Homo sapiens: one gene and its partners. The protein of the gene in region 3 interacts with the protein of the main gene of each other region in a pairwise test. Each region holds a gene or a part of one and is shown on either strand. Other genes may lie near its edges. The genes, in order: MPP1, NDUFB3, ATP5F1C, POLA2, PTN, PAWR and SERPINA1.

The links.
Region 1: the proteins of ATP5F1C (region 3) and MPP1 interact in a two-hybrid assay, tested with the Homo sapiens proteins (one large-scale study listed by BioGRID and IntAct).
Region 2: the proteins of ATP5F1C (region 3) and NDUFB3 interact in a two-hybrid assay, tested with the Homo sapiens proteins (one large-scale study listed by BioGRID and IntAct).
Region 4: the proteins of ATP5F1C (region 3) and POLA2 interact in a two-hybrid assay, tested with the Homo sapiens proteins (one large-scale study listed by BioGRID and IntAct).
Region 5: the proteins of ATP5F1C (region 3) and PTN interact in a two-hybrid assay, tested with the Homo sapiens proteins (one large-scale study listed by BioGRID and IntAct).
Region 6: the proteins of ATP5F1C (region 3) and PAWR interact in a two-hybrid assay, tested with the Homo sapiens proteins (one large-scale study listed by IntAct).
Region 7: the proteins of ATP5F1C (region 3) and SERPINA1 interact in a two-hybrid assay, tested with the Homo sapiens proteins (one large-scale study listed by BioGRID and IntAct).

Annotation. Positions count from the first base shown.
Region 1 is NC_000023.11:154,791,538-154,796,065, reverse strand, and holds part of MPP1 (55 kDa erythrocyte membrane protein), read left to right. Parts: intron 1-3,780; coding exon 3,781-3,924; intron 3,925-4,218; coding exon 4,219-4,297; intron 4,298-4,528. UniProt on the Homo sapiens protein: Essential regulator of neutrophil polarity. Regulates neutrophil polarization by regulating AKT1 phosphorylation through a mechanism that is independent of PIK3CG activity.
Region 2 is NC_000002.12:201,074,463-201,078,990, reverse strand, and holds part of NDUFB3 (NADH dehydrogenase [ubiquinone] 1 beta subcomplex subunit 3), read right to left. Parts: intron 111-4,528; 5' UTR 109-110; coding exon 1-108. UniProt on the Homo sapiens protein: Accessory subunit of the mitochondrial membrane respiratory chain NADH dehydrogenase (Complex I), that is believed not to be involved in catalysis. Complex I functions in the transfer of electrons from NADH to the respiratory chain.
Region 3 is NC_000010.11:7,801,677-7,806,204, reverse strand, and holds part of ATP5F1C (ATP synthase F(1) complex subunit gamma, mitochondrial isoform L (liver) precursor), read right to left. Parts: intron 3,936-4,528; coding exon 3,780-3,935; intron 3,448-3,779; coding exon 3,351-3,447; intron 1-3,350.
Region 4 is NC_000011.10:65,281,839-65,286,366, reverse strand, and holds part of POLA2 (DNA polymerase alpha subunit B), read right to left. Parts: intron 3,889-4,528; coding exon 3,846-3,888; intron 1-3,845. UniProt on the Homo sapiens protein: Accessory subunit of the DNA polymerase alpha complex (also known as the alpha DNA polymerase-primase complex) which plays an essential role in the initiation of DNA synthesis.
Region 5 is NC_000007.14:137,333,384-137,337,911, reverse strand, and holds part of PTN (pleiotrophin isoform 1 precursor), read left to right. Parts: intron 1-4,528.
Region 6 is NC_000012.12:79,683,980-79,688,507, reverse strand, and holds part of PAWR (PRKC apoptosis WT1 regulator protein), read left to right. Parts: intron 1-4,528. UniProt on the Homo sapiens protein: Pro-apoptotic protein capable of selectively inducing apoptosis in cancer cells, sensitizing the cells to diverse apoptotic stimuli and causing regression of tumors in animal models.
Region 7 is NC_000014.9:94,382,103-94,385,602, reverse strand, and holds part of SERPINA1 (alpha-1-antitrypsin precursor), read left to right. Parts: intron 1-2,223; exon of another isoform or gene 2,224-2,361; 5' UTR 2,362-2,365; coding exon 2,366-3,011; intron 3,012-3,500.

The DNA of each region.
Region 1 (4,528 bases), on a different chromosome or scaffold from region 3:
TCTATTTCCCTCCTCCCGTTTACTCTTACTTAAACAGGGTCAAGGTTGAGGCAGGACAAGATCCACACAAGTACTTGAACCTGAGTCCCAATCACTTTGGAAAATTCTTTTACTAATTTATTTTATTAAAGTAACACAAGCACATAATACATAATTTAAAAGGTATAACTTGATACACAGTGAAAACAATTTCCTTCTCACCCCATCTTATAGCCACCCAGTTCCTCTCCCTAGAAGCAACCACTGTTTCTTATGTCTCCTTCCAGACATAGTTTATGTATTTTCATTTATTTTATTTTTTGAGACAGGGTCTCACTCTGTCACCCAGGCTAGAGTGCAGTGGTGTAATCACAACTCACTGCAGCCTTGACCTCCCGGGCTCAAGCAATCCTTCTGCCTCAGCTTCCCGAGTAGCTAGGATTACAGGTGCACGCCACCATGCCCGGCTAATTTTTTTATTTTTTGTAGAGACGAGGTTTTACTATGTTGCCTAGGCTGGTCTCGAACCCCTGACCTCAGGTGATCCTCCCACCTCAGCCTCCCAAAGTGCTGGGATTACAGGTGTGAGCCACTGAACCTGGCCAGTTTATGGATTTTTAAGCAAATATGAATATAATCATTCTTTCACTGTTTATGATGAAGCTAGTATACCCTTCATCACATTATTATTATTTTTTGCTTAACAATAAATCTTCAAGATCACCCTCAGAACCTCCTTTTCCTACCTACATGGTGTATCCCGGGTATCATAAGTCAATTTTTTAAATATAAGCCTATCTTAGACAATTTTGTTATAACAGCAATGCCATATGACTTGGTGTCATGTGAGTTTTTTGAAGTTCTAGTTGCTAGAGAAGGCAGTTTCTCTTTCTCAGTACTTCCCTCATTTGAGGTCACCTGATAGCGAATACTACTTCAAACCTCACCATGTTTTTTGTTTGTTTGTTTGTTTGTTTGTTTTTCTGAGACAGGGTCTTCCTCTGTTGCCCAGGTTGGAGTGTAGTGGTGTGATCATGGCTCACTGCTGCCTCCAACTCCTGAGCTCAAGCAATCCCCCTGCCTCAGCCTCCTGAGTAGCTGGGACCACAGGCTTGCACCACCACACTCAGCTAATTTTAAAATTTCTTACAGAGGCAGGAGTTTCACCATGTTGCCCAGGCTGGTCTCAAACTCCTGGGCTTAAGCGATCTCCCCACCTTGGCCTCCCAAAGTGCTGGGATTACAGGTGTTAGCCACTGCACCTGGCCCAAACCTCACCATCTTATCAAAGTTTCTACTTAGAAATCAGAGTCCCTTAGAAATGATGTAAGCCTCTACTCCAGACTTCCTTCTCTCTCATCTTCTAGTCCTTTTCTAGGCCTTGGGCAGGCCAGTGGACACTGCTCAGGCATACCATCTATTCCCATCTAGGGACCCTTCTCCTTCCCCACACAGTGAATGGCACACTCCTCACAGTTCTGCCTATTGGGAAGATCTTCCCTCCCTACTGTCTTTGAGGGTCACCTCTGGGTGTGACTGGAATGCAGCTATCCCCTATTTTCAGCAGACCCTTCCATAAGCCCACTTCAGGCCTATTCCTCCTCCTCGTCCTCCTCCTCCTCCTCCAGGTGGCTATATCATTTTTGATTTAATATTTTATCTGGGGTGGGCAGGGAGCATTTTCAGAGGTTTCCATAGTTTTTCCCCATTGTGATTGCTCTTACCCAGATCAGTAAGATGAGGAAAGAACAGCAAAGCAAACTGAGAAGGAGCATTTTAAGGAGAAGAGAGTGATCACCTGTGAGACTGATCCACAGGTGATCTACCATGGAGTGGTGTAGCAGTAGCCATTCATTGCCATTGATGTAGGGTATCCACTTGGATATGCTTCAGTTTATCCATTCTACTGTTGATGGACTTTTGGGCTATTTTCAGGTTTGGGCTTTTAAGAGTAGTGTTGTTCTGGAAAGGGCACACCACTACTTTCCTGGAATTCCTGCCAAAAATGCAAAATCCCAGTCTAATCTTGAAAAAACATCAGATGATAACCCCAAACTGAGAGACATCTACAAAATAACAGGTGTGTACTCTTCAAGAATGTCAAGGTCATGAAAGAAGAAAAAGAAAGGCTGAGGAAATTTTCCAAATTAAGGAAGAGTAAGGAAATGTGAAATGCATGATTGGATTCTGGTCTTAGATTGGATTCTGGGACCAAAAAGTCCTAGGTTGGATTCTGGACTGGGGAAGAAATATATAGCTATAAAGGACATTCTTGAAAGGGTTGGCAGATGACAATATTGTGTCAATGTTAAATTTTCAGTTTTGAAAATGCTCGTTCCTAACATATAGAGACATCTATGGGTAAAGGAGAATGAAGTCTTCAGATTACTCTCAAATGGTTCAAAAATTAAATTTTATAATATTTTTTAAAGAGTACTGGCTGCTCTTGGAATGGCGCCAAAAAGATGAAAGAATTTTATAGTGACACCCATATAGCCACACCTCCTAGATTCTACAGTTAACATGTTGCTGTGTTTGCTTTATCACATTTCTATCCAAAAACTGCCCATCTATCCACCTTCTTTTTCCTGGTATTTCAAAATAAGTTTCAGATATCAGAGCACTTTACCCCTGAAAGCTTCAGCATGCATATCATTGGCTCAAGTTCAGGATTTGTTTATGGTTCTTTTCATCCTGTTATTAAATTGTAAGAGTTCTTTATATGTTCTGGATACAAATCCTTTGTCAGATGTAAATATTGCAAATGTTTATTCTCAGGCTGTGTCATACCTGTCTAGTTTCTTATGTAAGATGTTTGAATTTGATGAAGTCAGTTGTTTGCTTGTATGATGATTGCTCCGTGTCTCGTCTACTAAATCTATGCTTATCTCAGTGGAGTTTTTTGATGAATAGACTTCTTACTTTTAAAGTGTTTGTCTTTTTAGTTTTCATTTTATACTCGGGACCTTTTATGACATTTATCGTGCAGACCATTTTTCCCCGCTGCACTGCAGTGTCACCTGACTATAAATGTGTGGCTCTGTTTTTGCACTCTCTGTTCCATTACATGGGTCGTTTGTCTTTCTTCTTACCACAGTGCCTTAAATTACTTTAGATTTATAATAAAGAGGCCTTGCTGCCTGGTAGAGTAACTCATTTAGCTTTGCTGTCTTTGAGATCAGGGGAAGAAGTCACAGTGGCAATGTATTATTGTTATCACCGCGGTTCGGGGCCCAGTCCTAAGTGCCTAATTCTACAGGTAGAAGTTCTTTGTAGCCTAAGGGGTGATTCATGAGAAACTGATGCTAACCTGAATTACCTTTATTGCTGTGTGACCGAGAGCATCAGGTTGTTCAAGGAAATACAAAGGAGAAGAGAACATGCCAGAAACCCTTGGAGCCTGAGGTGCCGCAGGATTCAGAATCTTTCTAATTTTGTTATATATTATGTAATACCCCAAGCAGGATCCAGGAGAGCACCATGTAAATCAAGGCACATTAATATTTCTGCAGCAACCTAGATAAACATGTCTATTTTATTTATTTTTAGAGACAGGGTCTCACTCTGTTGCCCTGGGACTGTAGCTGGGACTACAGGTGCACACCACCACACTTGGCTGACATGTCTATTAAGTTGGAGAAATAAAGCTTACAAACAGCTTCATGTCAATTCAAATAAGAATGAGGCCAAACTTATGAAATAAGTTTTCAGAGCCTCTTGAATGTTAGAATTGCAGATTGTGGACTGGCTGTGGGCCTTGCTCCTGATTTCATACGTTGCTTTGTTGTTTTGGCTTGGCAGGCTGTATCGCATCCATTGAATACTGTGACCGAGGACATGTACACCAACGGGTCTCCTGCCCCAGGTAGCCCTGCCCAGGTCAAGGGACAGGAGGTGCGGAAAGTGCGACTCATACAGTTTGAGAAGGTCACAGAAGAGCCCATGGTAATCCCCCGTCATATTGTCGCCCACCAGTTACTCTCTGCCCCATGAGTCACTGGGCCAGAAGAGTCAATGCAAGAGGCTGCTCATGGAGTTAGGGAATTGGCCAACCCCAAAATTGTCTTTTCATTCTTATCTCAAATTCCTCCTCAAAGCAGGCTTCATGCCTGTTCTAGTTGAGGACTATCCTGGGTATAAATGGAAAATATTTTCCTGAGAAATTACCGTAAGTTCTTTCTAAAATAACCTCAGAAAGAGCTTAAAATAAAGCTTATTGTGCCGTCGCCTTTATTTCAGGGAATCACGCTGAAGCTGAATGAAAAACAGTCCTGTACGGTGGCCAGAATTCTTCATGGTGGCATGATCCATAGACAAGGTACTCTGTGGGAGCTCTGGGTGGGGTTTGATTCAGGGATTAATAATTTACTCCCTGTTCAGTGGTGTGGGGCATGAAGCTTATAATCCTCCAAACTGGTAGCATTTTTGTGAGTGTGCCAAGAGACTTTTTGTGGCTTAATAACTGGCTCTGTAGAATCAGTACATGATAAGATCTCTATGTGAATTGCCCAGTGCCACCATCTCCCTATCTGAGCCTTCTTTCACACCT
Region 2 (4,528 bases), on a different chromosome or scaffold from region 3:
CAGCTTCTTCTGGATAGTTTCTAATGGTGTCCCTTCTATCTTCCATTGTCTATAATCTGGAAGTTCCATTTTATGATGTCCATGCTCATGTCCATGTTCATGGGCCATGTCTGTAAGGAAAAGATTAACACAAGTGAGAAATATGCAAATTGTAGATATCAAATACCCAAATTTATTGTTTATGTTTTAAGGTAAAGCATTTAATATTAAAAAAAAAAGCCAATATAAATACTTGAAAATTCCAGTTAAAGGATTTTATAAAAGTGTCTTATTCTACAACCATGTTCACAGTTAGGAAATACACATACACAAAATATAAAAAAGAAAAATAATTGGCAATCTCATCACTCAGAGATAACCATTTACTATCTGGTTCTTTTCTTCATTATAATAATAGTAAACATTTGCTAAAATGCTTTATGTGTATTAACTCCAATACCTCTAAAACAACTCTTTATAAATAGTAAACATATGCTAAAATGCTTTATGTGTATTAACTCCATTACCTCTAAAACAACTCTTTGAACTTAAATAATGAGTATCCCCATTTTACAGATGAGGACAATGAGACTCCAAGCAATTAAGTAACTTTCCAAAGGTAACAAAAATAGTAATGGTACAGCTGGGATTAGAACCTTGCAGTTTGGTTTTAGAACCCTGCTCCTAACTTCTTCTTCTTCTTATTTTTTGAGACGGCGTCTCGCTCTGTCGCTCAGGCTGGAGTGCAGTGGTGCAATCTTGGCTCACTGCAAGCTCCGCCTCCCGGGTTCACGCCATTCTCCTGCCTCAGCCTGGCGAGTAGCTGGGACTACAGGTGCCCGCCACCACGCCCGGCTAATTTTTTGTAATTTTAGTGGAGACGGGGTTTCACCATGTTAGCCAGGATGGTCTGAATCTCCTGACCTCGTGATCCACCCACCTCAGCCTCCCAAAGTGCTGGGATTACAAGTGTGAGCCACCGCACCCGGCCCCCTGCTCCTAACTTCTAAGCAATATTGTTTTCCTTTTGAATCCTTTCATAATGCATAAATATGTATAATAAAAAGGTTATACATCCTGTTTTAAAAATTTTCTTTAGATGATTCTTTTAAAATGCAATGCTTTTAAATACATATGATTACATGAAAGGTTTCTTTAAAGAGGCAGATCGTAAATATTTTAGGCTTTGTGGGTAAAAGAGGTAAAATTGAGGCAATTATGTAGGTACATTTATAGGAAGAGAAAACACACTACCGCAAATACCTTATTGATAAAATTCAAAATGTAGTAAGTAACTGACTACAAATTTTTTTGTAATACAGGTCTACTGACGAAAAAAATGGAACTCCCCTTTTGGGGGTAACATTCTACTTAACTGGAGCTCAAAGTTAGTGATCCTTAGCATCAAAGTCATTACAAATGTTCATTTGTAAAAACCATTCTTAGCTCATGGACCTTACAAAAACAGGCACTGGGCTGGATTTGGTCCACAGGCTGCAGTTTGCCGATCCCTGAACTGGGCCAACAGATACCTTAGGACTCCTTTTTAATCAATAAATTTGCTTCCTTAATTAAAACATGTCCTCAATGGTTATATAAATACTTTGGTTTTACTAGTGTTATTTTAATATATAATATAAAAATAAACCAGCTCAGTCCTCATTTAAATTGCTAATTCAAATTAAGGGGTATGGCTTAGTAACACTATACTATAATTTGTGTAAGGTTGGCAGTAGCAATCCTTTTATTTTTTTTTACATTTTTATTTTTCTAATTACTTGGCAAGCAGTAGCAATTCTATAATCACTGCTTTTCCGGAAGTAAAATCAAGTAAATATTACCATTATGTCCATATTTATAACTATGAACAGGCCCAATAAGGTAGGATTTCTTTTCTTTTCTTTTGTTTTTGAGATGGAGTTTTGCTTTTTGCCCAGGCTGGAGTGCAATGGTGTGCAATCTCGGCTCACTGCAACCTCCGCCTCCTGGGTTCAAGCGATTCTCCTGCCTCAGCCTCCTGAGTGGCTGGGATTACAGGCATGCGCCACCATGCCCGGCTAATTTTGCATTTTTAGTAGAGATGGAGTTTCCCCATGTTGGTCAGGCTGGTCTCGAACTCCTGACCTCAGGTGATCTGCCCGCCTCCGCCTCCCAAAGTGCTGGGATTACAGGCGTGAGCCACTGTGCCTGGCCTGGTAGGAATTCTTACATTGCATCTCAGAAGAGAGAGGTAATTATTAAAAAGTGTATATTAAAGACACATTATTGGGAGGCTGAGGGATGAGAATCGCTTGAACCCAGAAGGCAGAGGTTACAGTGAGCCAAGATGGTGCCACTGCACTCCAGCCTGGGCGACAGAGTGAGACTCTCTCAAAAAATAAGTAGTTCCAAGATATGAGAAAAAAATTGTACATACTAACTGTGAAAAACCAACACTTATTATTTGTAAACATGTTAAGATACTAAAAAACATTATGTTGATGATTTTCACATTTAATTATATATATATATATATATATATATATATTTAAAGATAGAGGGTCTTGCTCTGGATCATAGCTCACTGCAGCCTCAAACTCCTGGGCTCAAGTGATTGTCCTGCCTCAGCCTCCTGAGTAGCTAGGACTGGAGTGTGCACAACGCCTGGCTAGTTTTTAAATGTTTTATAGCGATGGACCCTCCCTATGTTGTGCAGGCTGGTCTCAAACTCCTGGCCTCAAGTGATCCTTGATCCTCTGGCATAGGCCTCCCAAAATGCTGGGATTACAGTGGGATTACAGCCACACCCAGGAGGATTTTCACATTTAAATGAAAATGAAAATGAAAACCGATACTCTCAAACACAAGTTAAAATTACAACACAACTCTGAATGAAACATTTAACCCATTATTACTTGGTAGATTCAATAAAATGAAGGAAAAAAATTATGGTGTCAGACTTCAGACTGACTTTTGAGACTGAATACATTTATTACAAACGAAGACCATTACAAGTGTTTATTTAGAATGATAATGTCTTGGCTTCTGCATACCATGTTTTCAAAAAATCTTTTTTAAAATAAGGCTTCATTTTAAAAACACTTAAAACAAGACAAACCCTTATTTTGGCAAATGTCAATTCTAGAATATCAACCTGAGTATCAGTGTATTTGGAAGAGAGTATAAAACAAAGGGTCAAGAATTTTGATAGAATAGTTTTTGAAAATAAAACTTGAAACATTACCATGGTATAAAGACTATTTCAAAATTACAATACTACTGTGCTTAAACAAGTAATTTGAAAGATAAATCTTTGAAAGAAAACATGAAAGCGTACATACCCTCATTTCTCCTATACAAGTTTATTTAAATACATTCAATGTATTTTCTCTTCTACCTAATTATTTCAGAAGTATCCTTTTCATAGGAATTTACTAAATATACCTTTTTTTTTTTTTTTTTTTTTTGAGACAGAGTCTCGCTCTGTCGCCCAGGCTGTAGTACAGTGGCGCAATCTTGGCTCACTGCAACCTGTGACTCCCAGGTTCAAGCAATTCTCCTGCCTCAGCCTCCCGAGTAGCTGGGACTACAGGAACCCCCCACCACGCCTGGCTAATTTTTTGCATTTTGTAGTAGAGATGGGGTTTCACCGTGTTAGCTAGGATGGTCTCGATCTCCTGACCTTGTGATCCGCCCACCTGGGTCTCCCAAAGTGCTGGGATTACAGGCATGAGCCACGGTGCCCGGCTAAATATAACATATAAATGACTTTTCAAAAAGAGCAGAAAGTTGAAAACACTTTCTCTAGGAAACCTTTCATTTTCTTTTTTCTTTTTCTTTTTTTTTTTTTTTTCAGACAGGATCTTCCTATGTTGCCCAGGCTGCTGTTGAACTCCTGGCCTCAAGCATTCCTCCCTCCTTGGCCTCCTAAAATATTGGGACTACAGGCGTGAGCCATGGCACCTGGCCCATTTTTCTTTTTAAACTTATTTCTATTTCCAAATAGCCATAAATCAAACAATGATATCGTGACCTGTAAAGTAAGAGCTTGAAATTCTCCTACTTTGCACTAGTAAAAGTAAAATCCAAGGCAAATCACTTAATTTCCCTGAACTTCAGTTTCTTCATATAACATGAAGATAAAACCTACCTTGCAAGATCGTGAGAGCTGAGGAAAACACATTGTGATGTGCCTTCTACTTTCATACTTAGGTGGTGAGAATGTAACTAAGCACAACCATTCTGAAAAACTGGCAAGACCTAGAAAGGCTGAACATGGCTGGGCGCAGTGGCACACGCCTGTAATCCCAGCAATTTGGGAGGCCAAGGCAGGTGGATCACTTGAGGCCAGGAGTTGAGACCAGCCTGGCCAACATGGGGAAACCCTGTCTCTACTAAAAATACAAAAATTAGCCAGGTGTGGTAGCACACACCTGTAGTCCCAGCTACTCAGGAGGCTGAGGAATGAGAATCACTTGAACCCAGGAGGTGGAGGTTGCAGTGAGCCGAGATTGCGCCACTGCACTCCAGCCTGGGTGACAGAGTGAGATTCTATCTCAAAAAAAAAAAA
Region 3 (4,528 bases):
TTACAGAGCATGCAAACCCATTCACAAGCAATCCAACCTTGGCACTGCATAGCTAAGTTTTTGTATAAGGATTTAGACTACCTTCCTAGGAAGCAAAAACTTAATACTCAATTTCCAATTATGTGGATTCCTTTTTCTAAATTCTTGGTTTTGTGCAGTGGCACGATCATAGCTCACCGCAGCCTAAAACTCCTGGGCTCAAGCAATCCTCCTGCCTCAATTTCCTGAGTAGCTAGGACAACAGGCACATGCCACCAGGCCTGGCTAATTTTTTCATTTTTGTAGAGATGGGGTCTTGCTATGTTGCTCAGGCTTGTCTTGAACTCCTGGGCTCAAGCAATCCACTCGCTTCGGTCTCCCAAAATGCTGGGATTACAAGCATGAGCCAATGCACCCAGCTGTTTCTGTTACTTTTAAATAGGTTTCCTGCATTTCTTTTTTTTTTTTTTTTTTTTTTTGAGAAGGAGTCTTGCTCTTTTGCCCAGGCTGGAGTGCAGTGGCGCAATCTCGGCTCACTGCAAGCTCCGCCTCCCAGGTTCATGCCATTCTCCTGCCTCAGCCTCCATAGTAGCTGGGACTACAGGCGCCCACCACCACGCCCAGCTAATTTTTTGTATTTTTAGTAGAGACGGGGTTTCACCGAGTTAGCCAGGATGGTCTCAATCTCCTGACCTTGTGATCCGCCCACCTCTGCCTCCCAAAGTGCTGAGATTACAGGCGTCAGCCCCTGCGCCCGGCCAGGTTTCCTGCATTTCTAATGAAGAAATAGGCTGGTCCTCAATTTTGCAGAAGTTGTATCATCATAGGTCATACCTAACATTCGTTTGTCAAGAGCAAAAAAACCCCCTTGGGTTCTCTGGATCTCACACAGCCCACAAACCTTCAGAATGTGGTTCCTTCCCGCAGGCTTTGTCACACTTAAGATCCAAGAACAAATCAGCCTGGCTTTAACATGGGGTAGATGGCAAGAAGGATAATGGCTAATAGAAGGTTTTAGTCCTTGTATTAGTCCCCATGTTACAGATGACAAAGCTGAGTAACAGAGAGAGTATCCTAACCAAGTTCATCAAGCTAGACACCATGAGACAGTATTCTGTGATGCTGATAGAACATTGGTGACCAGGCTGTGAATGGGTTAGTCCTAACACAGCTGTGCTTAGAAAGTAAAATAAGAGAAGAATGCTTAGGATAGCGAGGCTGATGGATCCAACTAACAACTTACACAAAGGTCTCTGTTGGCTCAAAAAGTTCTAGTTGTGTCTCTCTGGCATTCTGCCCAGTTTCTGCCCTTGAAAAGTAACACTTAAGGAACACTTTAAATAGTGATGAACTTTTCCCTGACTCTTAAAACCATGGACCCACATTTTCATACACCCAATAAAATGTTATTTGTCCCTCTTCTGAACTTCCAGTTCTGAATACATATGGCATTTCATTCATTCATTCAACATTCACGAAGGAGGTATGTACCAGGCAATGGGGACACAAAAGTGAATAAGATATGGTCCCATCCTAGCCTCGAGGAGCACACAGACAAATAAAAAGCCAATTCCTCATACAAGGCTGTAAGAGCTAAGCTAAATGGAAGACAGGATGCTGCAGAAGGCTGCCTCACTCAGACTGAAGGAAGGAGTGTTTTCTGGAAGAAAGGATTCCCCCAGCTGAGTAAGGAAGGATACACAGGAGGCAGTCAGATGAAGAATCAAGGGAGCAAGGGAAGAAATAGTGGCTTTTCAGGCTGCAGCACATGCCACTCCCTGGCCGCGAGAAAGAGTGACGAATCTGTAGATCTGGAAGTAGATCAAGGTGGCTGAGGTTCAAGGACGTGAGAAATGGTAATGGTAAGAGACTGGACTGGGAAGAGTGCTGGTGACCAGAAAATATAGGATCACATACATCGAGTGTTTCTGCAGAATGAGTGTATAACAGAGAATGGATTTTGTTATTTTCCTCATAACACTGTCACAAGAATAGGCAAATTTTTTCGGTGAAGGGCCACACAGCAAGTATTCTGCACTCTGTGGGTCACACGCTATCACTCTCCTTTTTCTTATATCCCTTTAAAAATGCAGAACCCATTCTTAGCTCCAGGCCACAGTTTAGCAACCTCTGTTCTGCTGTGACTTCTTATTTAGTGTCTGCCTTTACTGTGAAGACTGAGCTCTCTGAAGGCAAATACTGTTACCACTGTATCCTCAGTGTCTAGCACAGGGCCTGACACTTAAGGGGCACTCAAATAATTACCTTTTTGAACCCAGGAGAGAAATGACAAGGATCTGCATTAAGTGGGCATAAAGAAGGGGGAAGATTCAAGAGATAGTTAGAAGGTAAAACTTAAAGAGCATGGTAACTGATTAGCAGGAGGTAAGAAGGAACGAGTCAAAAAGAACTTACTACACGTTTTATCTAATCACAATTACTTGTATGTTTCTTATCCTATTAGAATATAAGTGCCTTAAAAGAGAGAATCACATCCTTAACACTGTGTCTAGCACTGTACTGTGCACATAGTGGGTATTCAACTTAATAACTTTTTGAATAAAATTCCCATTATCTTAACCTTTTTTTCATAAACATTAAAGTTTTTCAACAACTAAGAAATTTTCTTGAGGAAAGCAGTATATAGTTGGCCCTCAGTATCCATGGATTCAACCAACAGCCGATGTAAAATATTTGGAAAAAAGACAAAAATAATGATAAAATAATAAAAACAAAAACCAATACAACAACAATTTACATAGCATTATAACTAGAGATGATTAAAAGTATACGAGAGGATGTGCATTTTTTATATGTAGTACTGTGCTATTTTATTTCAGGGACTTGAGGATCTTCAGATTTTGGTATCCTGGGGGAGGTGAGAGTGAGTACTGGAACCAATCCACTGCAGATACTGAGGGATGGCTATACTATCTTTTGGTACTGATATAGAAAACATAATGATTAAAAAACATAATGATTAAAAAATTCCTGGACCTTCCCAACATGCAATGGTTTATAGATTTATGTAAAACCAAATCTGAAACTAGCCCTGTAACTCAGAAAGCTTGGCTTACAATTGTTTAAATTCCAAAAAAAGATTTCATAAATGATACTGAATTATCCACATCCCATTCCTAATCCTTTAGAAAACCGAAAACTAAGCCCGAGTGTTTCCAGCTGAAACAATAAAAATAAAGCAAAGAGGTCCCATTTTTACCACATCTTTATAGCCTAAGAGTTAGGATGCAAGTTTCAGCAATGAGTTTCAACTTCAAAAGAAAAAAACGAAAAACTTTTAAGCATCCAAACAAGCAGACACAGCAAGAGGAAAAAAAATTCTCTGAAGGCGACAATCTACAATTACTCACAGAGCTGCAGCACCAGAGATAATTTCAATCAACTCTTTTGTGATGACAGCTTGGCGGGTACGGTTGAATGTCAATGTCAATTTGTCAATCATCTCAGCTACAAACAAAACAAAAACACTACATAAAAAATCTGAAACTAGAGTAGAATAACTTGTTAACTAACTTCTGTTGCTTAATTTAAAAGTAAGAAATTTTTGGATACCAAAATTGGCCTCTCAAATAATGTTATGAAGATATTTTTACATCTTCCATAGGATACCTTTTCACAGTACTTGCAAATCAACTACCTATCAAGATATACTTTCTTACAGGTACAGGAATATCATGTTAATGTTGTTGATGCTACTCTCGGCCACGGACTCCTCTCAGCTGAGATTCACTGTGTGCTCACAAGCACTCCTGCTGGCACTGTCCATACTGTGTACTTACAAGCATTCTTGCTGGCATTGTCCATGGCTGTCATCCTGGCACTCTGCTCACTAGTGGTGGACTCCTTCAGAGAGTAGTAGATGATGTTGGCCAGATTGTATTCTTGGTAATTTTGCAGCACGTCAGCATCAATATCGTCATAGATACTCATGCTGTCTGTTAAAACAAGTGATGAGTTTCTTTCAAGTTATATGGAAGGAATAGTAATTCATCAAAAACAGCTTTTCAGTGTAAAACTCCTTTATAATTACAGAGCAGAAATTAATGCTAGATAAGGTAAATGAATCTGTTCTAATAATGTCATCTATTTCCACACTACAGATGATAGCATATTTTTAGCAAAATATAATGTGTAAATAAACCATTTGATATTCTACTCCACATGTGTAACTTTAGAAAAATTAGGTCAACATTTGAAATAACTGCACTATATCTCGTGGTTATGAAGCCCTCTGGACAGCATTAGCATGTGCCTGTTACAAAGCCAGCAAGCACTCAATGCTTTTTCCAGTAAAAAAGAATAATAATGAATTGAAACGAATTTAGTGTAATACAGGTTGAGCATCCCTAATCCCAAAGTCCAAAATCTGAAGTGCTCCAAAATCTGAAACATTTTGAGCACTGACGTGATGCCACAAGTGGAAAATTCCACACCTGACCTTGTGTGATGGGGTGCATTTGAAACTTTGTTTCATGCAGAAAATTCTTTAAAATATTGCATAAAATTGCCTTCAGGCTATGTGTATAGG
Region 4 (4,528 bases), on a different chromosome or scaffold from region 3:
AAAAATCCTAAACTGAAGGTGTGGGCAGGGCTGAGTTCCTCCTGTCTGGAGGTTCTAGAGAAGAATCCATTTCCTTGCCTTTTCCAGCTTTCAGAGGCCACCTGCATTCCCTGGTTCATGGCCCCACCTGCAGCGGCAAAGCCAGAAGCCTAAGATTTCTCTATTTTGAAATAAAATTTTTCTTTAGGCTTCCTCAAATCACAGCAGCCTAACATTTCTAAGCTCTGACTCTGATTCTCTTGCCATTCCTCTTATAAGGACCCTTGTGATTATAGTGGACCCACCTGGATAATCCAGGCTAATCCCCCATCTCAACAGCCTTAACTTAATCACACGGGCAAAGTCTCCTTTACCACAAATGGTAAAATATTCACAGGTTCCAGGGATTCCTGGGGCTGTGATTCAGTCTATCATGGTAATAATACCATGAACTGACAGAGCATTCAAGGTGAAGAGCAGGTTTCATGTGGTGGTGGGGTAGGGGACAAAGTTAAGTTTGGCTCTGAGAAGCCTACAGGAGATGTGAGCCCCAGTGTAAGCAGTGAGTCTCTGGAGGGCGAGGGCCATGTCTTATTCTGTATCTCCATGAGTGCCTCATTTAATTCCTTGTACAAAAGTTCATTAACAACCTGTTAAACTGTTTCCAAAGGCTTCTCTGGTACACAGCTCAGGCTCCTGGTATCTCAGCCAGGTTGATTTCATTACCTGAAGTTGACCTAATACCAGCATGCCACCCTTGCCCCCTATAAATTTGTATTTTCTTTTTTTTCTTTTTCTTTTTTTTTTTTTTTTGAGATAGGATCTCACTCTCACTCCTAGGCTGGAGTGCAGTAGTGGTATGATCATGGCTCATGGCAGCCTTGAACTCCTGGACTCAGGAGAGTGATCCTCCCACCTTAGCCTTCCAGGTTGCTGGGACTATAGGCACATGCCACCATGCCCACACCCAGCTAATTTTTTTTTTTGAGACAGAGTCTAGCTCTGTCGCCAGGCTGGAGTTCATTGGCGATCTCGGCTCACTGCAACTTCTACCTCCCAGGTTCAAGCGATTCTCCTGCCTCAGCCTCCTGAGTAACTGGGATTATAGGCACACGCTGCCAAGCCAAGCTAATTTTTGTATTTTTTAGTGGAGATGGGGTTTCAGCTTGTTGGCCAGAATGGTCTCTATCTCCTGACCGTGTGATCCGCCCACCTCGGCCTCCCAAAGTGCTGGGATTACAGGGGTGAACCACTGCGCCTGGCCTAATTTTTGTACTTTTTGTAGAGATGAGGTTTCACCATGTTGCCCAGGCTGCTCTCAAACTCCTGTGGTCAAGCAATCCTCCTGCGCCAGCATGAGCCACCACGCCCGGCCAAACTTGTGTTTTCTGATAAAATGTGCAATATCACAAGGTCCTAAATTTCACTCCTGATTCTAGGTCATCTCCAAGAATGGCTCTGGCCACTGTTACATGCATGGGGTGTTGACAACATGCTAGTATCAGTGATCTGGTTGCTAATCCTTAACAGTGCTCCACTGTGCTTACAAAAATGCCTTGAGGGTTGGGTGTGGTGACTCATGCCTGTAATCCCAGCATTTTGGGAGGCCGAGGCGGGCAGATCACCTGAGGTTGGGAGTTTGAGACCAGCCTGACCAACATGGAGAAACCCCATCTCTACTAAAAATACAAAAATTAGCCAGGCATTACAGGTGCATGCCTGTAATCCCAGCTACTTGGGAGGCTAAGGCAGGAGAATCGCTTGAACCCGGGAGGTGGAGGTTGCGGTGAGCCGAGATGGCGCCTTGCACTACAACCTGGGCAACGAGTGAAACTCTGTCTAAAAAAAAAAAAAAGAAAAAAAAAACAATGCCTTGAAATACAGAAATACATACATATATTTTTTTGAGACAGGGTCTCACTCTGACACCCAGGCTGGAGTGCAATGGCACAATCATGGCTCACTGCAGCCTTGACTTCCTGGGCTCAAGCAATCCTCCTACTTCAGCCTCGCAAGTAGTGGGGACTATACAGGTGTGCACAACCACACCAAGCTGATTTTTTTTGTTTTTATTTTTTGTAGAGATGCAGACCCACTATGTGCCGGGAGGCTAAACTTAAACTGGGCTCAAGCAATTCTCTCACCTTGGCCTCCCAAAGTGCTGGGTTACAGAAGTCAGCCATCACACCTGGCCACCTTGAAATAAATAAATTCTATCTATCTATCTATCTATCTATCTATCTATCTATCTATCTATCTAGTGTCTTACTCTTTCACCCATGCTGAAGTGCAGTGGCATGATCACGGCTTACTGTAGCCTTGACTTCCCAGGCTCAAGTGATCCCCGCACCTCAGCCTCCTGAGCAGCTGGGACCACAGGCACATGCCACCATGCCGAGCTAATTTTTTTTTTTTTTTTGTAGAGACAGGTTTTCGCCATATTGCCCAGGCTGGTCTCAAACTCCTGGGCTCAAGTGATCTTCCCACCTCAGCCCTGTGAAGTGCTGAAATTATGTTGAAATATTTAGAAGCAAAGTTTGTCAAACTTTCTTTTTGCCTTTCCACAACTAGATTAGTTACCACATAACACTAGGGTTTTAAAGAAATTCTTTTTGGCCGGGCATGGTGGCTCATGCCTGCAATCCCAGCACTTTGAGAGGCCAAGGCAGGCGGATCACAAGGTCAGGAGTTCAAGACCAGCCTGACCAACATGGTGAAACCCCATCACTATGGGGTTTTGTAAAAATACAAAAATTAGCCGGGTGTGGTGTACGCCTGTAATCCCAGCTACTTAGGAGGCTGAGGCAGGAGAATCACCTGAACCCGGGAGGCGGAGCTTGCAGTGAGCCAAGATCTTGCCACTGCACTCCAGCCTGGGGGGCAGAGCGAGACTCCATCTCAAAAAAAAAAAGGAAGTTATTTTTAAGTTTTCACTTTAGAACAAATTTAGAATTGTAGAGAAGTTATGAAGATAGTACAGAGTTCCTGTGTGTCTTTCACCAGTGGCCCCTAATCTTAACATGTTAGGTAACCATGAACATTTGTCAAAATTAAGGCATTAATGCTGGTATATCGCTGTTAACTAAATTCCTGGATTCTCGAGGTTGAGTGTTAGAGCCAGAAAAATAAAAAAGTAAATTCCTGGCTTTATTCAGATGTTGCTAGTTGTTCCACTGATGTTCCCGTTCTCTTCAAGGATCCAATCCAGGATGCCACATTATACTTTCAAAAAATTAATTAATTTTAATTTTTTTTAAGAGTCAGAGTCTCGCTCTGTCACACAGGCTGGAGTAAAATGGTGTTACCATAGCTCACTGCAACCTTGAACTCCTGGGCTTAGGCAATCCTCCTGTCTCAGCCTCTGATTAGCTAGGACTACAGGCATGCACCACAAGCCCAGCTAATATTTTTTTTAATTTTTAGTAGAGACAGGGTCTCCCTATGTTGCCCAGGCTAGTTTCCAACTCCTGGCCTCAGGTGATCCTCCCACCTTGGCCTCCCAAAGTGTTGGGAATACAGGTGTGAGCCACCGCATCTGCCCATGCTGCATGTAAATAAATTCTTTTTGAAATCGTACATCTTTTCCTTTCCAAGGCAACCTTCAAAAATACCTGTTAAACATTAGTCTTTAAACAACATGCTTCATGTAGGCAGAACTCAGGCGACAGCACGACCAACGCTCACTGGGCTCAGACCAGGGGTCTTGTGACAAAAAACCTACGAACTCATGATGGTGGCGCCCTCACTGCTTGGTCACATTGCTCTTCAGCAGCTTCTGCAGCTTTCTTGGGCTTGGGAAACTGCACTCCTGGACTCATGTCTACCATCCTCATTGTTGGCAAAACAATATTTGAACCGAAACTCACCTGCATCCTCTTCAGTGGGCTGATAAAATGGAAGTGGCACACCCTAAAAACAGGGGAAAAGCTCAAGTAAGGTCTTGCGCCAGGCATCACCTTGGTAAGGAAAGGGGAGGGCACCAGGTTGGGGGTGGTGCAGGTGTGTGATGGGAGGACAGTGGGGAGGAGCGAGAGGGCAGGGGAAGGATGTGCCTCTGTCTTGCTCCCTGGATCTGATGGGACCTGCCATTTTTCTATACTGCTCAGAGGGCAAAGAAACCCAGGTAATGGGAGGTCACTACTCAATTGTCATAAAATACCCAGCAACAAGTGGGAGCAAAACAGGTGCCTAAAGTATCAGTGTACTTCTAGGCAAGGATGGGAGAGAATGGTTTCTTGCTACTTTTCCTGGCATTCTACGAAAATCTCTGGAGGATTGTTGCCTAGAGCAGGGATAGGTAACCTTTCGGCCTCTGGGCCAAATTTGGCTGCAGCCCACTATTTAAATAAAGTTTTATGGGAACACAGCCACAGTCATCTGTTTAAGAGTCCTCTATGGCTGCTTTTGTAGACAAAGGCAGAATTGAGTCATTGTGACAGAGACCATATAGCTACAAAGTCTAAAAGAGTTACTGTCTGGCCCTTTATAGAAAGGGTTTGCTGACCCCTGGCCTAGGGGTGGGTTCCCACTTACAGATGGAGAACTGACT
Region 5 (4,528 bases), on a different chromosome or scaffold from region 3:
AAAATAGGCAGCTCTAAATGCCATTCATTCTCTTTGCCCATGTTGTTCCACCCACCTTGACCATCTGTGTTCTATGCCTAATCCCCTTGCCTTACCAAACAACCTGGTGCCAATTTCCTGTTTAAGCCCAAGCATTCCCATTCTCAACTTTGAACCTCCAGAAACTTCTCCCACTCTCTTTCCTTCACTCCCTTCATTACAAATGTCATATAGGCTTGCTGGTTCTCTACAGTGTCTTCCTAATCATATTTCACCTTGATAATTTTAAACTTTTCATAGTTGCCGATTCAAGACTACCTCCAGAATGGAGAAAACCTTACTTACCTCTTCTTTAACAAACCATATTATTCAAAGTGACAAAGCTAGTAATTTGAAGCATTATTTTCATTATAACTTCTATGTAGCTATAAGGCCTGTTTTTAAAAATGTTTCACATTTATTTTTTCATCATATTTTTGTAACTCTACTCAGGTAGATTGAGTGGGATTTTTAAAAAATTGATACAGAAATGCAGGCTTAGAGAAGTTAAGGGGGCCATATTCAATGACATACAGATATGAAAACAAAAGTCTTAAAATTCCTAGTTTGAGTTTATTCCTCTGTAATATAATGCCATCTCTTTCTTAGGCTAATAAATAGATTTTATCTCCCATTTGTCTCTCATGTCAAACCCCAAATCCAATGTATGTACAGTTAGAGGTCAAATAACCTACAGCAGCAGTTCCCTGTCTTCAATGTTTATCAGATTAACTAGCGTCATGTGTAGGTTCCAGCTGCCTGGAGCCCATCTTCAGCAGTTCTGATTTAAGAGGTGGAATCAAGGACCCTGGACATACGACAGGGCATGTGGATACGGATGAAACATTAGAAACAGTAGCCTTAATCGCTCAATATTTGAGCTCCAAGGTCCAAAATACTGAGGTATAAACCACTGCACTTCTTAGTAGCTCTGTGACCGTGAGCAAATATTGTGGTCTTTCTTACTTCAGTGTTTTCATCTCTAACATGGGAGCACATACCTACCTTCCAGGATTGACGTCTGAGTAGTAATTGAGAAAATCAATGTGAAGTACTGAACATAGAGTCTGATTGCTGGGAGTGTTTGAGCAGGATGGTGAAAATGATGATCATGGTGAAGCAGCACCAGATGCAAGTCCTCACTTCTTCCCCCTCCTGAATTGCTTTTCTTTCTCATGCCCACTTGGCATCTGCAACAAACATACAAGCAAAATCCTAGGTGGAATTCCATGCTTCTTGAAAGGCCTCGCCCCTCCACATGCTCATACCATTTTCTTCCTTCTCTCTAAATGCAGATTGAAAATCCTTTCTTCTGGAAGAAAACATACGGAGCATGTGATCATGCTCAAGGCCTGGGGGTTGGGCAGGCAAAGTCTCCGATGCAGACTCTTTGACCTTATCCCTTCCCATAAGGTATAGGAGAGCATTTTGCATACAGAAGACTCCCAATCCAAGAGACAGGCACTTTATTGCTGACCTTAGTGATGCTCATAACCACATTCTCTCTGACCCCTGCTGATAGAGGCTTCAGTCCAGGGAAGGAGTTAAGGTTTGGAGTCAGGAACCAGCATCTCACCACAGTCCGCCTGTTGTTTGGTATGGGCTGCTGGATGTGCCACTGAATCTTCTGAAATCTTAGGTTTTTTAGCTCTAAGTGGGAAATGATGATGATGTTACTTGTTTTGCCAACCTCATAGGTTGGTGGTAAATGTCAATGGTCACGACGCAACATCTGTAAGCTCTAAACTGTTATACTGAACATGAACTGAACTTAATAAAGTCAGTGGGGCAAGTTCTGCCTTTCTGGTTTCCCAATCCTGCTATTGTCATTGTCATTTTCTCAGGACACACAGAGATTGCCTAAGTTGCTTGAAGGTAAGTTTGACTCACAAAGTGAGGAGGAGGTAAGATGTGCGACAGGAATGAAGAAAAAGAAATGAGTCATACTAAAAAAAAAAAAAAAAAGCGAGAAGACATCTTAAATGAGGCTGAACTGAAACAGGCATGCTTTCTTTTACCTCAGATTATGTTATATTTCCTTCTGAAGTGTCTTAAAAGCTACATGTCACATTTTTTAATTGGTTATTCTCACTAAATATAAGCCTTAGTAATTGGCTAACAGCAGTTCATTTACATGATAGCTGGATAACTGTGCTTCTCAAACTTTCATGTTCATACCAGTCACCCAGGGTCTTTGCCAAAATTCAGTAGGTCTCCAATGAAATCTCAGAGTCTGCTTTTCTGCCAAGCTCCCAGGTGACTGCAGTACTGCTAGCTTGGCGACCTCTCTTTGAGTAGCAAGCCACAACAGTTTAATTCAACAAACTTGAGGGAACAGGAGACAAATCAGAATGCTCCAGTCATGATGTCCATAGCTTAATAAAAATGATGAGGATCATTGTCAATATGTTATATGCAAAAGCTTCTAAAACTTACATCTTTGTGACCAAATAATATTTACAATGTATGATTATTTATGAAAGAAAATTGCAGACACCACCTGATTTGCTATTGACTTCACTGAAGTTCCCTTAAGTGTAAAAAGCCCCTGGCCAGATGTTGCACTTGGGCCTCCTTACCAGTGCTTCTGCTGGGGTCTTTCTCGGAGAGGGTGTAAGTGATCCAAATGTTGCCTTCTTCATTTGCTTTAAAAGCTAATGAAAAGTGTTTAGAAAACTTCATTCTTTTTTTTTTATTATTATTATACTTTAAGTTTTAGGGTACATGTGCACAATGTGCAGGTTAGTTGCATATGTATACATGTGCCATGCTGGTGTGCTGCACCCATCAACTCGTCATTTAGCATTAGGTATATCTCCTAATGCCATCCCTCCCCCCTCCCCCCACCCCACAACAGTCCCCAGAGTGTGATGTTCCCCTTCCTGTGTCCATGTGTTCCCATTGTTCAATTCTCACCTATGAGTGAGAACATGTAGTGTTTGGTTTTTTGTCCTTGCGATAGTTTACTGAGAATGATGATTTCCAATTTCATCCATGTCCCTACAAAGGACATGAACTCATCATTTTTTATGGCTGCATAGTATTCCATGGTATATATTTGCCACATTTTCTTAATCCAGTCTATCATTGTTGGACATTTGGATTGGTTCCAAGTCTTTGCTATTGTGAATAGTGCCGCGATAAACATACATGTGCATGTGTCTTTATAGCAGCATGATTTATAGTCCTTTGGGTATATACCCAGTAATGGGATGGCTGGGTCAAATGGTATTTCTAGTTCTAGATCCCTGAGGAATCGCCACACTGACTTCCACAATGGTTGAACTAGTTTACAGTCCCATCAACAGTGTAAAAGTGTTCCTATTTCTCCACATCCTCTCCAGCACCTGTTGTTTCCTGACTTTTTAATGATTGCCATTCTAACTGGTGTGAGATGGTATCTCATTGTGGTTTTGATTTGCATTTCTCTGATGGCCAGTGATGGTGAGCATTTTTTCATGTGTTTTTTGGCTGCATAAATGTCTTCTTTTGAGAAGTGTCTGTTCATGTCCTTCGCCCACTTTTTGATGGGGTTGTTTGTTATTTTCTTGTAAATTTGTTTGAGTTCATTGTAGATTCTGGATATTAGCCCTTTGTCAGATGAGTAGGTTGTGAAAATTTTCTCCCATTTTGTGGGTTGCCTGTTCACTCTGATGGTAGTTTCTTTTGCTGTGCAGAAGCTCTTTAGTTTAATTAGATCCCATTTGTCAATTTTGTCTTTTGTTGCCATTGCTTTTGGTGTTTTAGACATGAAGTCCTTGCCCATGCCTATGTCCTGAATGGTATTGCCTAAGTTTTCTTCTAGGGTTTTTATGGTTTTAGGTCTAGCGTTTAAGTCTTTAATCCGTCTTGAATTAATTTTTGTATGAGGTGTAAGGAAGGGATCCAGTTTCAGCTTTCTACATATGGCTAGCCAGTTTTCCCAGCACCATTTATTAAATAGGGAATCCTTTCCCCATTGCTTGTTTTTCTCAGGTTTGTCAAAGATCAGATAGTTATAGATATGTGGTGTTATTTCTGAGGGCTCTGTTCTGTTCCGTTGATCTATATCTCTGTTTTGGTACCAGTACCATGCTGTTTTGGTTACTGTAGGCTTGTAGTATAGTTTGAAGTCAGGTAGCGTGATGCCTCCAGCTTTGTTCTTTTGGCTTAGAATTGACTTGGCGATGCAGGCTCTTTTTTGGTTCCATATGAACTTTAAAGTAGTTTTTTCCAATTCTGTGAAGAAAGTCATTCTTAATATGAAAAAGATATATGTAATATATTTACTTAGTGTTAAGAGTCTTCCCTTCTTTCACATTTTAACGTCTATAACTGCATTAGACTCTTTCCTTCCATACCATAATGGAACTAGACCAGGAATCATCCATCTTTGTGACTTCCTTGAAGACGGTGGGGCTGCCCAGAGAAACAGCCAGGGCTTTTTGCTTCAGAGTCCAGATTTAATTAATAAGGAACATATTGTGGTAACAGTCTTAGGTAACACAGAAAATCTTCACTCAGGCTAGAA
Region 6 (4,528 bases), on a different chromosome or scaffold from region 3:
GGTAATCAAATTTCTAGGTGTTTTTTTTTTTTTTTTTTTTAGTTAAAAATATGAAGATTAAGGGGAAATTGAAGACAAGGCTTTGGAAAAGCTACATTCCTCAACTTGATTTTTAAAAGTAGCTGATGATCCAAATAAAAGAATTTGTCATTTTCAATCTTTTCCTCATTGTTCATCTGACAGCGGTCTTATTTTGGGAAATATCTTGGCAGATGTTAAACTTCACTTTTTTTCTGGCTGCATGTGCTAAAATTATTTTTCAAGTACTTTTTTTTTTTTTAAACAAGGGTAATGTTTACTGGGGGAAGTAAGTAGAGTGTATCTTGTGAGATCCTAAGAAACATCTTTTGTTAATACCCCTGCTTTGAGTAAGAGAACATAGTGCTGAGAATGTAGATGACTTCCCACTACAATGGAGTCTAATACTCTGGAATGTTTTTCGTTTGGGTGTTGGCAACTCCTAAATTTAATCTTCCCTGAAAACAAACAAACCAAGGGTACCTTTTTTTTTGTCTGTAGAGTTTGAACCTTTTTATTGAATAGGGAATTGAGGACTGCTTTCTTTTAGTGGTAACTATGTCTCTGTCCGTTTCAAGCTGCAGGACCCAACAAAACAGTAATGCTTCACTACAGTATCTAATTAACAGACATACTTCTTGAGCGCCTCCTCCTCATATTTTCTTATTTTTCAAAACAACTTATGTATTTCAGATTATTTTAATAGTGGTAAAATATATGATGCAAAACTTTAAAGCTGAGCCATTTTCATGTGTTTATATTGTTGCTTTTTTAGAATTGTGCCATTTCTCCTGGTAGTTTCAACATTGAGAATACCAGTTGCTGTGGAGTTTCTTGTGTAATATTTAATTTAGCACCCCTGTTTTAAAAAGTCATACATATTTTGCAAATTTTTCGGGTATGAAAATAAGTAAAAAGATGAAAATGACCAATCTCTTTATATTCAAAAGTAGACTTTATTTTATCTAATGTCGAGTAAGACTCTTATTTTCAGACATGATTCCCAACCAAGTCTGTATTAGTAGATTAACATGTAGTTCATATGTAGAGATCTGGTTTTAATGGTGGATAAACATTAAGTTCCTTCAAGGAAGTACTTATGAAACATCTGTGTGATACATTTATTGTGACTTTCATTACCTCACTTTACTAGTTATAGAGTGTATATATAATACTGTTATAAAGGTATCTGACAGCAGCTAAAGATACCAGAATTGACTAGAAGATAGTTATAGGCAAGGAACCAGGTCAAAAACCGAAACTAGCTATTTGGGAGGTAGGAAACTGGGTGGTTACTGCATGTGATGGCTGAAGTCGATCTATCCAGAGCTTCTTTAATGAGATAAAATTTACTAAGAGTTTTAAGAAAAATATCCTTTTTTCTAAATTTTTACATTTTCTATTTTTTGGTAGTAATTCACCTGAACTGGGTAATTTGGACGTGGCATACTTCTTGCCAGTAATTTTTGTGTGTGTTTATCAGATCAGTCAAATGTGTATTACATACCTGTTAAAGACACTATCCTTAAGCAGTGGAGAAAATAAGAACACGGCAGTGTATATTCTCAAGGAGCAAGGCTATAATCTAGGAAGAAGGATAAGGCATAATTACATGAAAAAATTTAAGTACTGAGTTAACAGTTTAAAAGCCATCTTAATGAAGCATGTAACTATTTATTGGAAATAGTGTGTGTTTAAAAGGGGGAGATGATTGGGCTGGGAGAAGCTATTGAGGATGAGAATCTTGACCTGAGTCTTAAACTTTTCAGTACTTGTATATTTTTACATATGTTCTCACATATGTACATGTATACATAATTGTTTGTATAGTATATTAAGTACCGACATGCAGTGGTTCTTAACTTGAGCAGCACATTGATAGCATGTTAGGATCTTTAAAAAAATGTTTGCTCATGCTAATTCAATTCCGTGCCCTCTTTGTCCCTTCACCCCACCCTGTAATATTGAATGGGTCTGGGATGGATCCCAGGCATTAATATTTTTATAAGTTCCCCATTTGATTCAAATGTGAGTCAGTGATAACAACTGTTGGACTGCAGTCTGGGTATAGAAATGAATAGGACATAAGCCTTGCCCACGAGGTGCTCTCAGGTAATATAAGGAAATGTGAAAAGTAGAGTAGTAAGTATAGCTTAGTGCCTGAGCAGGGTACCTAACCCAGGGAGGAGGAGTGATAGTTGAAGAAAGCTTCCTAGACAGTTACATACTTGTTTCCAGGGGGTTTGTGAAGTTACTGCCATTGAGTAGGGTTGTGTGAATGGGTTAATGGAGATGGGTGCCATAGAAAATGTAATCTTTGAATAGGTAGAGGTGGCACTGAAGTTTTGGTTTAAGTATAAAAGTTAACATATACAGTATTTAAAACTTCTGTTTTAAAATAGTGGTTGGCTAAAGTGGTTTAGCTTTAGTGGTTGGCTAAAGTGCTTTATGTACTGAAGTTCACAGCAATCTCATGTGGTAGTTACACTGTTTATCACTATTTCCAGAGGAGAAAATGAAGACTTAGAGCTTAAATGATTCAAGATCACATAGAAAGTAACTGATAGAGCAATATTTTAAACATTTTTGTGTATTTTGTGTGTATGTATATATCTAGGGAAAGGGGAGTTTTTAAAAATTAACCTACTTTTCATTATTCAGCATATTTCCCTAGATTTTTACATAACTTTTTATTAAAGATTATCTTAAGTAATTTAAACATCTGAATGAGGAAAACAGTAAAGGTATGGAATTGAATAGAATTTCAGGTCAAATTTGTGGACTCAGAGATTGCCTCTGACCCTCTAACCTATAGAGTGGCAAAATTTTGAACACCAGGCTCTCGGCAAAACGTAAATTTATTTTTGGCTAGTGGTCAGAAAATGTGAATCTTTGATTTTACCTAAGTGATATATTGTTTTTCTATCAAGATGGGGTCATGACACCTACTCCATAGTTTGAACTCGTGTTGGTGAAAGGGAAGATAAAGGAGCATTTAACATATAGAAAGCACTTTTAAGTGAACACAGGTTAGGTCATAATTATTTAGTATGTTTATTGAACATTATATATAGGACAAGTTCCACTTAGTAAACTTTATAAATCCAGGTGGATTAAGAAATGCCTTTTGTTATTCCCATTATGCTCCAGACTGTCTACCTTTCTGTGTGATGAGTCAGGAGAGAAACTAATAATGACTCAGAGTTGGAGAAAATTTGATTCGTGAATGGGGTAGATATAGTGTAAACACTGAGACTGTTTAGTGTAAAACCTGGGCTATTAGCCCAGCTTTCCTAAATGTTTGAGCTCACTGGTAAAGTAAATTGAAATTTTAATATTATCAGGATTTGTACTGAGTTGTCTGAGCTGGGATGTCATTTCTCATAAAAATAATAATTACATAATTAAAGTAGATGACATTTATGGTGTGCTTATTAAGTGCCAGGCACTGTTCTAAGCACTTGACATACATTAGTGCATTTAATTCTCACCACAGCCCTATGGGAAAATGGGGAAGAGAAGGTATGTTACTTGCTTCAGGTCATACATGTAGTGAGAAGTAGATTAGAGATAGTTTGCACTCACAGTCTTGTGCGTAATAAACCATCTTACTACACTTCAGTGTATTACATACTGTATACCTAGTTTAAGAAATACAAAGAATATTTTAGTGTTAAATTGTTAGTATATGACTATGGAATTTAAAAATAGCCCTATTTATAGAACATAGATGAAGTGAGACTTTAATGGAAAATTTTGAGAACAAATGAATATATAAACACTGGCATTAAAATTCTTATTTAAAATCATTATCAAGCTAGTGGCCTGTTTATACTATTTTCTTTGTTTTTTTCTTTCTTTCTTTTTTTTTTGAGGTGGAGTCTTGCTCTGTTGCCCAGGCTGGAGTACAGTGGCATGTGGTGTGATCTCAGCTCACTGCAGCCTCCACCTCCCGGGTTCAAGCAATTCTCCTGCGTCAGTCTCCCAAGTAGCTGGGACTGCAGGTGTGCACCACCATGCCTGGCTAATTTTTGTATTTTTAGTAGAGATGGTGTTTCGCCATGTTGGCCAGGCTGCTCTCAAACTTCCAGCCTCAAGTGATCTACCCGCCTCAGCCTCCCAAAGTGCTTGGATTACAGGTGGGAGCTACCGTACCAAGCCTATCTATGCTATTTATTATTTCTGCATTTTTTTTTTAGCACCTATGATGTGTGCCAGAAAATAATTATGCCATTTAATAGCAAGGTTGATATAATGTTTTATAAGTATAAAATTATTGGCAAATATTAGGGTTTGACATTTTCTCTGTGCTTTTTTTCCTTTTTTAAAAATTGAGATATAATTCACATACAATAAAATTTACCCTTTTAAAGTGTACAGTTCAGTGGTTTTTTAGTATTCACACGGTGTGCTCTTAAGTGCTTTTATATTTTCATCTTTATTTTTCATTATGTTCTTAGAACCTCTGGTCCCTAAATTTTAGCTTTCCTTTCAGTAAAGTGATATGGTA
Region 7 (3,500 bases), on a different chromosome or scaffold from region 3:
GTAACCCCAGCACTTTGGGAGGCCAAGGCAGGCGGATCAAGAGGTCAGGAGTTCAAGACCTGCCTGGCCAACACGGTGAAACCTCAGCTCTACTAAAAATACAAAAATTAGCCAGGCGTGGTGGCACACGCCTGTAATCCCAGCTATTTGGGAAGCTGAGACAGAAGAATTTCTTGAACCCGGGAGGTGGAGGTTTCAGTGAGCCGAGATCACGCCACTGCACTCCACCCTGGCAGATAAAGCGAGACTCTGTCTCAAAAAAAACCCAAAAACCTATGTTAGTGTACAGAGGGCCCCAGTGAAGTCTTCTCCCAGCCCCACTTTGCACAACTGGGGAGAGTGAGGCCCCAGGACCAGAGGATTCTTGCTAAAGGCCAAGTGGATAGTGATGGCCCTGCCAGGGCTAGAAGCCACAACCTCTGGCCCTGAGGCCACTCAGCATATTTAGTGTCCCCACCCTGCAGAGGCCCAACTCCCTCCTGACCACTGAGCCCTGTAATGATGGGGGAATTTCCATAAGCCATGAAGGACTGCACAAAGTTCAGTTGGGAAGTGAAAGAGAAATTAAAGGGAGATGGAAATATACAGCACTAATTTTAGCACCGTCTTTAGTTCTAACAACACTAGCTAGCTGAAGAAAAATACAAACATGTATTATGTAATGTGTGGTCTGTTCCATTTGGATTACTTAGAGGCACGAGGGCCAGGAGAAAGGTGGTGGAGAGAAACCAGCTTTGCACTTCATTTGTTGCTTTATTGGAAGGAAACTTTTAAAAGTCCAAGGGGGTTGAAGAATCTCAATATTTGTTATTTCCAGCTTTTTTTCTCCAGTTTTTCATTTCCCAAATTCAAGGACACCTTTTTCTTTGTATTTTGTTAAGATGATGGTTTTGGTTTTGTGACTAGTAGTTAACAATGTGGCTGCCGGGCATATTCTCCTCAGCTAGGACCTCAGTTTTCCCATCTGTGAAGACGGCAGGTTCTACCTAGGGGGCTGCAGGCTGGTGGTCCGAAGCCTGGGCATATCTGGAGTAGAAGGATCACTGTGGGGCAGGGCAGGTTCTGTGTTGCTGTGGATGACGTTGACTTTGACCATTGCTCGGCAGAGCCTGCTCTCGCTGGTTCAGCCACAGGCCCCACCACTCCCTATTGTCTCAGCCCCGGGTATGAAACATGTATTCCTCACTGGCCTATCACCTGAAGCCTTTGAATTTGCAACACCTGCCAACCCCTCCCTCAAAAGAGTTGCCCTCTCAGATCCTTTTGATGTAAGGTTTGGTGTTGAGACTTATTTCACTAAATTCTCATACATAAACATCACTTTATGTATGAGGCAAAATGAGGACCAGGGAGATGAATGACTTGTCCTGGCTCATACACCTGGAAAGTGACAGAGTCAGATTAGATCCCAGGTCTATCTGAAGTTAAAAGAGGTGTCTTTTCACTTCCCACCTCCTCCATCTACTTTAAAGCAGCACAAACCCCTGCTTTCAAGGAGAGATGAGCGTCTCTAAAGCCCCTGACAGCAAGAGCCCAGAACTGGGACACCATTAGTGACCCAGACGGCAGGTAAGCTGACTGCAGGAGCATCAGCCTATTCTTGTGTCTGGGACCACAGAGCATTGTGGGGACAGCCCCGTCTCTTGGGAAAAAAACCCTAAGGGCTGAGGATCCTTGTGAGTGTTGGGTGGGAACAGCTCCCAGGAGGTTTAATCACAGCCCCTCCATGCTCTCTAGCTGTTGCCATTGTGCAAGATGCATTTCCCTTCTGTGCAGCAGTTTCCCTGGCCACTAAATAGTGGGATTAGATAGAAGCCCTCCAAGGGCTTCCAGCTTGACATGATTCTTGATTCTGATCTGGCCCGATTCCTGGATAATCGTGGGCAGGCCCATTCCTCTTCTTGTGCCTCATTTTCTTCTTTTGTAAAACAATGGCTGTACCATTTGCATCTTAGGGTCATTGCAGATGTAAGTGTTGCTGTCCAGAGCCTGGGTGCAGGACCTAGATGTAGGATTCTGGTTCTGCTACTTCCTCAGTGACATTGAATAGCTGACCTAATCTCTCTGGCTTTGGTTTCTTCATCTGTAAAAGAAGGATATTAGCATTAGCACCTCACGGGATTGTTACAAGAAAGCAATGAATTAACACATGTGAGCACGGAGAACAGTGCTTGGCATATGGTAAGCACTACGTACATTTTGCTATTCTTCTGATTCTTTCAGTGTTACTGATGTCGGCAAGTACTTGGCACAGGCTGGTTTAATAATCCCTAGGCACTTCCACGTGGTGTCAATCCCTGATCACTGGGAGTCATCATGTGCCTTGACTCGGGGCCTGGCCCCCCCATCTCTGTCTTGCAGGACAATGCCGTCTTCTGTCTCGTGGGGCATCCTCCTGCTGGCAGGCCTGTGCTGCCTGGTCCCTGTCTCCCTGGCTGAGGATCCCCAGGGAGATGCTGCCCAGAAGACAGATACATCCCACCATGATCAGGATCACCCAACCTTCAACAAGATCACCCCCAACCTGGCTGAGTTCGCCTTCAGCCTATACCGCCAGCTGGCACACCAGTCCAACAGCACCAATATCTTCTTCTCCCCAGTGAGCATCGCTACAGCCTTTGCAATGCTCTCCCTGGGGACCAAGGCTGACACTCACGATGAAATCCTGGAGGGCCTGAATTTCAACCTCACGGAGATTCCGGAGGCTCAGATCCATGAAGGCTTCCAGGAACTCCTCCGTACCCTCAACCAGCCAGACAGCCAGCTCCAGCTGACCACCGGCAATGGCCTGTTCCTCAGCGAGGGCCTGAAGCTAGTGGATAAGTTTTTGGAGGATGTTAAAAAGTTGTACCACTCAGAAGCCTTCACTGTCAACTTCGGGGACACCGAAGAGGCCAAGAAACAGATCAACGATTACGTGGAGAAGGGTACTCAAGGGAAAATTGTGGATTTGGTCAAGGAGCTTGACAGAGACACAGTTTTTGCTCTGGTGAATTACATCTTCTTTAAAGGTAAGGTTGCTCAACCAGCCTGAGCTGTTCCCATAGAAACAAGCAAAAATATTCTCAAACCATCAGTTCTTGAACTCTCCTTGGCAATGCATTATGGGCCATAGCAATGCTTTTCAGCGTGGATTCTTCAGTTTTCTACACACAAACACTAAAATGTTTTCCATCATTGAGTAATTTGAGGAAATAATAGATTAAACTGTCAAAACTACTGACAGCTCTGCAGAACTTTTCAGAGCCTTTAATGTCCTTGTGTATACTGTATATGTAGAATATATAATGCTTAGAACTATAGAACAAATTGTAATACACTGCATAAAGGGATAGTTTCATGGAACATACTTTACACGACTCTAGTGTCCCAGAATCAGTATCAGTTTTGCAATCTGAAAGACCTGGGTTCAAATCCTGCCTCTAACACAATTAGCTTTTGACAAAAACAATGCATTCTACCTCTTTGAGGTGCTAATTTCTCATCTTAGCATGGACAAA